3 linked regions of the Homo sapiens genome follow. The protein of the gene in region 1 purifies or fractionates together with the protein of each later gene. This does not show direct contact. Each region holds a gene or a part of one and is shown on either strand. Other genes may lie near its edges. The genes, in order: YME1L1, ARMC9 and NDUFB6.

Evidence for each region.
Region 2: the proteins of YME1L1 (region 1) and ARMC9 purify together in Homo sapiens (co-immunoprecipitation; one large-scale study listed by IntAct). This does not show direct contact.
Region 3: the proteins of YME1L1 (region 1) and NDUFB6 purify together in Homo sapiens (affinity purification with western blotting, with the first as the bait; one study listed by BioGRID). This does not show direct contact.

What each region holds. Positions count from the first base shown.
Region 1 is NC_000010.11:27,112,950-27,116,489, forward strand, and holds part of YME1L1 (ATP-dependent zinc metalloprotease YME1L1), read right to left. Parts: intron 3,397-3,540; coding exon 3,270-3,396; intron 3,185-3,269; coding exon 3,111-3,184; intron 1,659-3,110; coding exon 1,572-1,658; intron 1-1,571. UniProt on the Homo sapiens protein: ATP-dependent metalloprotease that catalyzes the degradation of folded and unfolded proteins with a suitable degron sequence in the mitochondrial intermembrane region.
Region 2 is NC_000002.12:231,275,093-231,278,745, reverse strand, and holds part of ARMC9 (lisH domain-containing protein ARMC9), read right to left. Parts: intron 2,111-3,653; coding exon 1,971-2,110; intron 365-1,970; coding exon 288-364; intron 1-287. UniProt on the Homo sapiens protein: Involved in ciliogenesis. It is required for appropriate acetylation and polyglutamylation of ciliary microtubules, and regulation of cilium length. Acts as a positive regulator of hedgehog (Hh)signaling.
Region 3 is NC_000009.12:32,566,569-32,570,221, forward strand, and holds part of NDUFB6 (NADH dehydrogenase [ubiquinone] 1 beta subcomplex subunit 6), read right to left. Parts: intron 293-3,653; exon of another isoform or gene 1-292.

The sequences.
Region 1 (3,540 bases):
GGTGGCTCACACCTGTAATCCCAGCACTTTGGGAGGCCAAGGCAGGTGGATCGTTTGAGCCCAGGAGTTCGACACCAGCCTGGGTAACATAGTGAAATGCTCTCTACAAAAAATAACAAAATTAGCTAGGCATGGCAGCATGCGCTTATAGTCCCAGCTACTCAGGAGGCTGAGGTGGGAGGATCACTTGAGCTTGGGAGACAGAGGTTGCAATGAGCCAAGATCACAGCACTGCACTCCAGCCTGGGTGACAGGGCAAGATGCTGTCTCAAAAAAAAAAAAAAAAAAAAAAAAAAAAAAAAAAAAAAAAAAAAGACCTGCCTTCATGAATGGGTAGCTTCAACATTCAAATGCAATACATAACCAATCTCTCCACTAAGTTCCCACATCTATTTCCAACTAAGATGCCTCAAATTCAACATACATAATACTGAAATTGGGCCGGGCGCAGTGGCTCATGCCTGTAATCCCAGCACTTTGGGAGGCCGAGGTGGGTGGATCGCCTGAGGTCAAGAGTTTGAGATCAGCCTGGCCAACATAGTGAAACCCTGTCTCTACTAAAAATACAAAAAATTAGCCAGGCATGGTGGCACGCGCCTGTAATCCCAGCTACTCAGAAGGCTGAGGCAGGAGAATCACTTGAACCCAGAAGGCGGAAGTTGCAATGAGCCGAGATAGCACTACTGCACTCCAGCCTGGGCAACAAGAGCAGAACTCTGTCTCAAAAAAAAAAAAAAAAGAAAAAACAAAAACAAAAAACTGAAATCATAGAGCTAGGCATAGTGGTGTGTGCCTGTAGCCCCAGCTACTTGGGAGGTTGACTTGAGCCCAGGAGTTCAAGTCCAGCCTGGGCAATATAGCAAGACCCATCCCCTTAAAAAAAAAATGACAAAACCCACAAAAAACCAACAATAAAACACCTACTAAACTTATTTCTTAGGTTGCAGTGAGCCGAGATCATGCCACTACACTCTAGCCTGGGCAGCAGAATGAGACTCCATAAAAAAAAAAAAAAAAATTTATTTGTTGAATACATGTCAAAGACTCAATAAACAATACTCTTCCCATTCTATTACCTCTTACAGTTTTGCAGCTAAAGTACAATTGAATTTTATATACATATAAAATTTTATATATAGATTTTATTTCAACAGCTTATGGGGTACAAGTGGTTTTGGTTACATGGATGAATTGTATAGTGGTAAAGTCTGGGATTTTAGTGTATCCATACCTACATAGTGTACACTGTACCTAATACCTAATATGTAGTTATTTTGTCCCTCACCCTGAGAATTGAATTTTTACAACCATGCAATATAGAACTGTTCTTAGCCCGTGTCCAGGTTCATGAACAGAGAGGTGCCTTAATAACATTTAAATCATTGCTGAAATGCTGCAACTATTATCTTTATTTTTTAATTTTTTCCCCAGACACCATGGTGACTATTATCTTTATTTTATAAAATGATGTTTCTAGTGAACAGAGGGCCTTCAGCTGTTATTTTTTAAGAACCTGACTATTTAAGCACATTGTTCCTAAGAAAATAAATAAGCACAAAAAATATTATTACCCTTAGAAGGATTCTTATTTCTTGTTCGATGGCAGATTGGGTTTCTGGACTTAGTTTCCCTGTATCACTGTAGGTCATAACTCCAAGCTAAAACCAAAAGGAAGAAAGTAATTGAACAGAAAACCCCCAAACACCAACAAATTTGAAAGAGAAAGTACTATCCTATATATAAGGAAACAAATATATGGGGGACAAGAAAGAAGTACAATAGAAAACTGCATTTGAGGCCGGGCACAGTGGCTCACACCTGTAATCCTAGGATTTTGGGAGGCCGAGGCGGGTGGATCACCTGAGGTTAGGAGTTCGAGACCAGCCTGGAAACACGGAGAAACGCCATTTCTTCTAAAAACACAAAAAATAGCTGGGCATAGCGGCACGTGCCTGTAATCACAGCTACTCAGGAGGCTGAGGCAGGAGAATCGCTTGAACCCAGGAGGCGGTGGTTGCAGTAAGCTGACATTGCGCCACTGCACTCCAGCCTAGGTGACAGAGCGAGACTCCGTCTCCAAAAAAAATAAAAATAAAAACTGCATTTGAGGGCAAAGAAATTTCCACATTCTTCTGAAAGTATAAAGACTAACATTTAGCCAGGCATGGTGGCAGGTGACTGTAATCCCAGCTACTTGGGAGGCTGAGGCAGGAGAATCGCTTGAACCCGGGAGGCGGTAGCTGCAGTGAGCCAACATCACGCCACTGCACTACAGCCTGGGCAACAGAGCAAGACTCCGTCTCAAAAACAAAGAAACAAAAAAACACTAATATCAAAATAGTAAAAGTATGAGCAAGACAGAACATTTAAAATCTTTTTTTTTTTTTTTGGAGACAGGGTCTTGCTCTGTCACCCAGGGTAGAGTGCAGTGGACTCACTGTAGCCTCGACCTCCTGGGTTCAGAGAATCCTCCCACCTCAGACTCCCAAGTAGCTGGGATTACAGGCACACACCACCATACCTGGCTAATTTTTGTATTTTTTTAGAGATGGGGTTGTGCCATGTTGCCCAGGCTGGTCCAGAACTCACTCCTGGGCTCAAGCAATACAGTCTCCTCAGCCTCCCAAAGTGCTGGGATTACAGATGTGAGCCACAGTGCCCAGCCTAAAATCATTTTAAGTCTGGTTCTCAGTACTTTCTTGAAAAACCTTGGCAGCTACTTCAAATATAGAAATCCATAATTCACAGAGTATAGTAGTGCTTCAAGGAACAATGACAAGATGAAAATATGAAATAGAGGGAAACAGTAAAGTAACCAAACTTAGAAAGTAGACTCTTTCATGCCACATGGAAAAGCTAAGGAATTCACCTTGCTTTATCACTTAATTAACTCGTGAAGTAATAGTTACTATCTGGGCAGCTCATTCTCAGCAGCTAAGAGAAGGTCCATTTTCTTTATTCAGAGAATAACAATGTTCAGAATAAAGAGCCTCAAATCCATTTGGAGTGAGAGAAAAAGTGAATATTACCAATTTATAATCAGAACCAGCTCTCAAATCAACACTTGACACATAATTTGATACATGAAAAGGATTTAAAAAATCTATTACCTTTTCACTCATTCCAAATTTGGTAACCATCCGCTTTGCTATTTTAGTGGCATTATCAAAATCACTGGAAGCACCTAAAATAAAATAAAAACATACCATTTTAAAACATATCTTTAAGACCACATATAATTTGAACTAAAGCCATTCTTTAAAGCTAACCTGTTGTAATATGGTCGGTTCCAAATATAAGCTCCTCTGCCACTCTTCCTCCCATACTAACATCCATTTGTGCAAGCAGCTGGGCTCTAGTTTCATTCCATCTGTCATTCTCAGGTAACAGGGACACCTAGACAATTAAAAATTAATCAGATAAAAAATAAGCAAAGAGGCTGGGTGCGGTGGCTCACGCCTGAATCCCAGCACTTTGGCAGGCGAGGTGGGTGGATCACCTGAGGTTGGGAGTTCGAGACCAGCCTGACCAACATGGAGA
Region 2 (3,653 bases), on another chromosome or scaffold:
GGAATGTTGGGGGCTAGATGATGAGAAACAGCAATGCCGGAGGGGCCCGGCACAGGCCAGTGGGCCAAGCAGACAGGGACGGAAAGAACATCCTGCTTCTGACTTCCAAAATTCTAAAAATTATAAAAGATTTCCAGTTGCTTATGAAAATCCCAGAAGGACAGAGAACATGTACAGTTTTCAAATACAGCAACCATCCTGGGCCAGCTGTGTGCCTGTGGGGTCACAGGCATTGGGTCCCCAGTGTAGCCTCCCCGAGCCCAGGGCCAGCAGTGCTGAATGAGTACCTCATGGTTTTCATGGCCAAGAAGATCCGAAAGGACTTTGAGCACGAGGCCTGCCACCTTGGCACACATGTTCTTCCCTATGGGAAACAAATCAAAGCTAAACATGACATGTCTAAACCCAGAAGCACAATTTTAGGTCAGGTAGACTTGGAGACAAATCTTGGCTCCTCTGCTCATGAGCTGTATGACCTCGGGTGAGCTGTATGACCTCGGGTGAGTCATGTAACCAATCTGGGCCTCAGTTTCCTCTTCTTTACTACAGGGATTACTATTCATACCTACCTCAAAAGGTGATGCAAAATTAAGTAGACTAATGTATGTAAAGGACTCAGTGTAGCATAGAACCTCGGTGCTCAGTAAACCATCCCAAGTGGTGGCTATTACTCCGGTCAGAGCACAGAGCGAGTCATTACAGTGAAAGCACAATACATTATAGAGCAACGTTCTCCCTCCCACGCACGGACACCACCATCAGGAAGACCATATAGGCATTTTAGTAGTTATAAACATCATCATAAAAATCACTGCAAATATGGTGATGATGATGAAGAAAAGCTAATTCTAATCTGATAAACATATTAGAAGTTAGGACTTTTGGCTGGGTGCGGTGCTTTACGCCTGTAATCCCAGCACTTTGGGAGGGCGAAGTGGGTGGATCACTTGAAGTTAGGAGTTCAAGATCAGCCTTGCCAACATGGTAAAACCCCCTCCCTACTAAAAATACAAAAATTCGCCAGGTGTGGTGGTGGGCACCTGTAATCCCAGCTACTCGGGAGGCTGAGGCAGGAGAATCGCTTGAACCCGGGAGGCAGAGGTTGCACCACTGAGCCAAGATCATGCCACTGCCTCTAGCCTGGGCAATGGAGCGTGACTTCATCTCAAAAAAAAAAAAAAAAGGCTAGGACTTTTTGCATGCTATTTTTTTAAATGACTGAAATAACAGTCATTTACTCAGTCAACAACACACAGTTACATGGTTCAGTCTACAAAGTATATAGAGGGGAAGATGCTCCAACAAGTCCTCCTGAGCCAGCTGTTTACCCAGGGAGCCTTTCTCTCCTAACACTGGATGCTCAGGCTGGGGAAAGCCACAGCCTGGAGGTGGCACCTCTTCTAAAGAAGCTTCTTTCATCCCAGGTAACAATTTAAATGAGATAGTACCTGTACCTGGAAAAGCTCAAATCACTACCTTCAGCGATCAAGTATATAAATGACTGATCAAGTATATAAATGACTTGTGCCCACAGGAGAACCTCCACCTCCAGGGCTGGGGCAGGGAAAAGAGTGTGATTCAGGGCAGGAAGTGTGGTTTAGTGTCACTGCTACTGCGGCCAGCTTAATCCTATAGTATCTTGGGAACACACTTCTTTGTCTTCAGAAAAGGGGATCATATTCTTAATTTCCTACCTCTGAATAATGCAATAAAGAAAAAGGTAAATGAACTTAGTCTCCTCTTAATGCAGGCACTACATATATACAAGACATTTTTTCCAGGGCAAGAATGGATTTTGCCTTCAGGGATTCAACAGCTTGATACCTAGTTGGAAATGCTTTCTACTCCTTTTTCTGTTTTTAGTTTTCTATGAGACTAAAAGCAAACCATATCAGGCTCACTAGAAACCCAGCTTCAAGAGTCAAGATCTCTTCCCCTTCTTGCACTAGAATGAGGGTCGGGGCTGAGACCTGTGCTGCGGAGGCAGAGGTTCATGAGCAAAGCCACCGAGTACTCCAGCGTGTAGTCAGACAGGCAGTCAGGGTCCTTCAGAACATCAACCAGCCAGAAGATGAGGCCGTCTTGAATCATCGCTGTCTGCAGCGGGCGCCTGGGAAGAAAGAGCCTACGGTAAATACAAACTGCCAAGAAACTTTTCATATAAGAGGAAACAGTAGGCTGGAAGCAGTGGCTCATGCCTGTAATCCCAGCACTTTGGGAGGCCAAGGCGGACGGATCACCTGAGGTCAGGAGTTGGAGACAAGCCTGGCCAACATGGTGAAACCCCGTCTCTACTAAAAATACAAAAATTAGCCAGGCGTGGTGACGGCGCCTGTAATCCCAGCTACTTGGGAGGCTGAGGCACGAGAATTGCTTGAACCCGGGAGGCAGAGGTTGCAGTGAGCCGAGATCGTACCACTGCACTCCAGCCTGGGCGATGGAGCAAGACTCTGTCTCAAAAAAAAAAAAAAGAAGAAACAGTAATGTGAATGCATATCAGAAAAGACAAACTTACAGAAGACATAGACTCTGAGGAATATTTTTGTTAAACCCATACAATTGAAATAACAAAAATTCTTTACATTTCAGGGATATTTATTAAGGGTTTAAATAAAGATAAGGTGGTAAGGAGGCCTCCTACTTTGAAAGTTTCCTTTTCAATATTTAAAATTAGCAGAGCATTGCTTCAAATATCTAATAAATATTTATTTGTAGCTTTTGGTTTACTTAACCCAGGAAACAGGACCATAGAAATACTTCTTTGACAAATAGGTTTTTTGTTTTTTTTTCCTGAGACGGAGTTTTGCTCTTATTGCCCAGGCTGGAGTGCAATGGCACGATCTCGGCTCACCGCAACCTCCGCCTCCTGGGTTCAAGTGATTCTCTTGCCTCAGCCTCCCAAGTAGCTGGGATTACAGGCATGCGCCACCACACCCAGCTAATTTTGTATTTTTAGTAGAGCTAGGGTTTCTTCATGTTGGCCAGGCTGGTCTCGAACTCCCAACCTCAGCTGATCTGCCTGCCTCAACCTTCCAAAGTGCTGGGATTACAGGCGTGAGCCACCGTGCCCAGCTGACAAATAGATTTTTACCTAAACGCTCTATAATCCAGCTCTAGGCACTCTGAGCTGTATAAAAATAAAGAAAACAAGGAGGAGCAAAAGCCTAGCTTAACATCACTTTGATTCACATTTCTATAGAGTAAGGGTAGTTTAATGACCTGGTTAATGCAAATTATAAGGAATGATTTTCCACCCAAAGTCCAGGTGTAGAATCTTACAAAATCCAATACCCCATCAAAATGTGTGATGGTGAATGTCATCAGGTTAGCTTTAAGAATTGCTGAGACTAAGTGTGGTATCATTATGAGATGCCATCTGGATTAGTAGAAAACTGACATGCCACAGAGAAGCCAGCTCTGCACATCTCCGGATGCGCAGGTTATGGTGAAACCACCACTCAGGACAGAACAGCAGAACCAGTTATCCGTTCATCCTGTTCTTAAACACTACACTGACCCAATCAGGGTGGCTTATTAGAATACAGTGAAGACTGCGCTCTCTTGGTAACTAGCTACCTTCTTCATTTATTGCAGAGACTCTGGAAAACTGCAAAAAGGTTAAGCACATTTACAGAACAAAAAAGCTTAAATTA
Region 3 (3,653 bases), on another chromosome or scaffold:
GGAGCTTCTGGCACATGGAGCGGAGGACCCGCAGGAATTCCTCCTGAGCCTCTGCACCCACCATGGAGGAGCAGGAGCTCACCTCTCTCAGGTAACTCCGGATCCGGCTTTCACAGCTGTATCTCAGATAGCCAGACTTATTCCAAAATCGGGACTCCAAGCCTTCAAACCACAGCGGGTCCTCAGCCCGGGTGTCGGCTGCGACGTTCTGGCTGACGTTGTACAGGAGGTCGGCCAGCAGTCTCTGCCTCTGTGGGGGCCTGCTCATCACACAGTAGCTGCCGGGCGGCCTGGATGAGCCACGCGTGCGGCTGGCGAAAAGCACTGAGGAAGCACCCGATGTCACTCACATAGCCCTGCCAGGCCTGGCGTGAGGTGAGCAGCACCAGCTCGGCATCGTCGAGGACGCTTCGGTCAGCTCCATGCCATCCTCGTACGAGGGAGCTAGAAGCAGAGGTAGCCCTTGCGCAGCATCTCCCGGCAGCTCCTGCCCGCCATGCCAAACTTCCTCGGGCTGCACAGGGCCCGCAGCTTCACAGTCTTGTGCTTCTGGAGCACTGCAGATGTACTCAACGCCTCTGGGCCCCGCAGGCAGTGGCACCCGCTGGCCAGCTGCTCAAGCTGGTCCAGGCCCCAGTCACAGGGCTCTACACCAGGTGTGCTCTGCAAAACTGGCATGGGCCGGGAACCGATCCCAGAAACTCAGTGCCATTTTGCTAACAGCATGTGTTCACTTCACGTCTCTGTGCCATATTTTGGTAATTCTCCCAATATTTCAAACTTTTTCAGATGGAGTCTCGCTCTGTCACCCAGGCAGTGGTGCGATCTTGGCTCACTGCAACCTCCTTCTCCCAGGTTCAAGGGATTCTCCTGCCTCAGCCTCCCCAGTAGCTGGGACTACAGACGTGCACCAAGCCCGGCTAATTTTTGTATTTTAGTAGAGATGGGGTTTCACCATGTTGGCCAGGCTGATCTTGAACTCCTCACCTCAGCTGATTTGCCCACCTCAGCCTCCCAAAGTGCTGGGATTACAGGTGTGAGCCACCATGCCTGGCCTCAAACTTTGTCACTATTGTTATATTAATATTTGTTATGGTAATCTGCACTCAGTGATTTTTGATGTTACTACTACAAATTTTAGGGGCAACACAAATCACACCCATATAAGATAGTGAATTTAATAAGTAAATGTTGTGTGTTGTGACTGTTCCACCAACTGGCCATTCCCCACCTCTCTCCCTCTCCTTGGACTGTCCTATTCCCTGAGACACAACAATACTGAAATTAGGCCAATTTAATAACACTACAATGACCTCTAACTGTTCAAATAAAAGAAAGAGCTGCATGTTTCTCACTTCATATCAAAAGCTACTTGGTAGGCTGAGGCAGGAGAATTGCTTGAACCTGGGAGGCGGAGGTTGCAGTGAGTCGAGATGGCACCACCGCACTCCAGCCTGAGTGACACAGCAAGACCTTGTCTCAAAAAGAAAAAAAAAAGATAGTGATTCCTCTGATGGATCTAGGCAAAGAAAATGGAAAATCTTCTGGGAAAGAATTTACTATCCTATATGCCATTAAGAAGATTTGTGATTAACAGGAGGAGGTCAAAGTATCAACATGAACAAGAGTTTGGAAGAAGTTGATTTCAACTCTCGTGGATGACTTTGAGGGGTTCAGGAATTCGGTGCAGGAAGGAACTCGATGTAGTGGATATAGCAAAAGAACTAGAATTAGAAGTGGAGCCTGACCATGTGACTGAAGTGCCTCCATCACATGATAAAGCTTGATAGATGAGAAGGTGCTCCTTTTGGATGAGCAAACAAAGTGGTTTCTTGAGATGGAATCTGCTCCTGGTGAAGATGCTATGAACATTGTTGAAATGACAACAAAGAATTTCGAATATTACATAATCTTAGTTGATAAAGCAGCGGCATGGTTTGAAAGGCCTGACTCCAATTTTGAAAGTTATACTGTGGGTAAAATGCTATGCTATCAAACAGCATCTCATGCTACAGAGATATCTTTCGTGAAAATAAAAGTCAATCGATGTGGCAAACCTCAGTGTTGTCTCATATACATATATATATATGTATATATGTACATATACTTATATATGTATATACGTATGTATATATATGTGTATGTATATGTGTGTGTGTGTGCATATATATATATATATATTTTTTTTTTTTTTTTTTTTGAGATGGAGTCTTGCTCTGTTGCCCAGGATGGAGTGCAGTGGTGCAATCTCAGCTCACTGCAACCTCCGCCTCCCGGGTTCAAGCGATTCTCCTGCCTCAGCCTCCCGAGTAGCTGGGATTACAGGCACCCACTACTACTCCCAGCTAATTTTTGTATTTTTAGTAGAGACAGGGTCTCACCATCTTGGCCAGGGTGGTCTTGAACTCCTGACCTCGTGATCCACCTGCCTTGGCCTCCCAAAGTGGTAGGATTACAGGCGTGGGACACCGCGCCCCGCCTGCTATCTTATATTAAGAAATTGCCACAGCCACTCCAGCCTGCAACAACCATCACCCTGATCAGTCAGCAGTTATCAACATGGAAGCAAGACCTTCCATTAGCAAAAAGATCATACATAGTCACTAAGGCTCAAATGATCATTAGCATTTTTTAGCAATGAAGTTTTTGTTTTTTTCTTTTTCTTTTTTGAGACGGAGTCTCACTCTGTCGCCAGGCTGGAGTGCAGTGGCACGATCTCAGCTCACTGCAACCTCCACCTCCCAGGTTCAAGTGATTCTTCTGCCTCAACCTCCCGAATAGCTGGGACTACAGGCGCCCGCCACCATGCCCAGCTCATTTTTTTTATTTTTAGTAGAGGTGGGGTTTCACCATGTTGGCCAGGATGGTCTCGATCTCTTGACCTCGTGATCCACCCGCCTCAACCTCCCAAAGTGCTGGGATTACAGGCATGAGCCACCGTGCCCGGCCTGTTTTTTCTTTTTAAGGCAGCATATCAACCTGGCACCTAGGCCAGAGTGCAGTGGCACAATCACAGTTTATTGCAGCCTCGAAATCCTGGGCTCAAGCAATCCTCCCATCTCAGCCTCTTGAGTAGCTGGGATTATAGGTGTGGACCACTACATCCAGCTATTTTTTTTTCTTTTTTTTTGGAAACATGGAGTCTCACTATGTTGCCCAAGCCGGTCGAACTTCTGGCCTCAAGCAATCTTCCTACCTTGGCCTCTCAAAGTGCTAGGGCTACAGGTGGGAGCCACCACACATGGCCCAGCAATAAAGTATTTTTAAATTAAAGCATATACATCGTTCTTTTACACTGCTATTACACACTTATACCACAGCACAGTGTAAACATAACTTTTATATGCACTAGGAAGCCAAAAAATTTGTGTAACTCGTTTTGGTGGTCTAGAACCAAAGAATACTTTTGGAACTGCATTGTTCTACAACCAATTCTGAAATATCTCTGAGGTATGCCTGTATTTGGCCAATCTCCCTATATATAACCCATCTCCTGTCACCACAACCACATCCCAGCATTAATACCTGCCTCACCTCATTCAGGTTCTGACATCTTGCTCTGAGTTACCACTTGCCTCACTGCCTCATACCATCCTTCTTCCAGATGTCCTCCTCCCTCTGCTCAGGTACCAATATCCTATACTAGGCTGTTG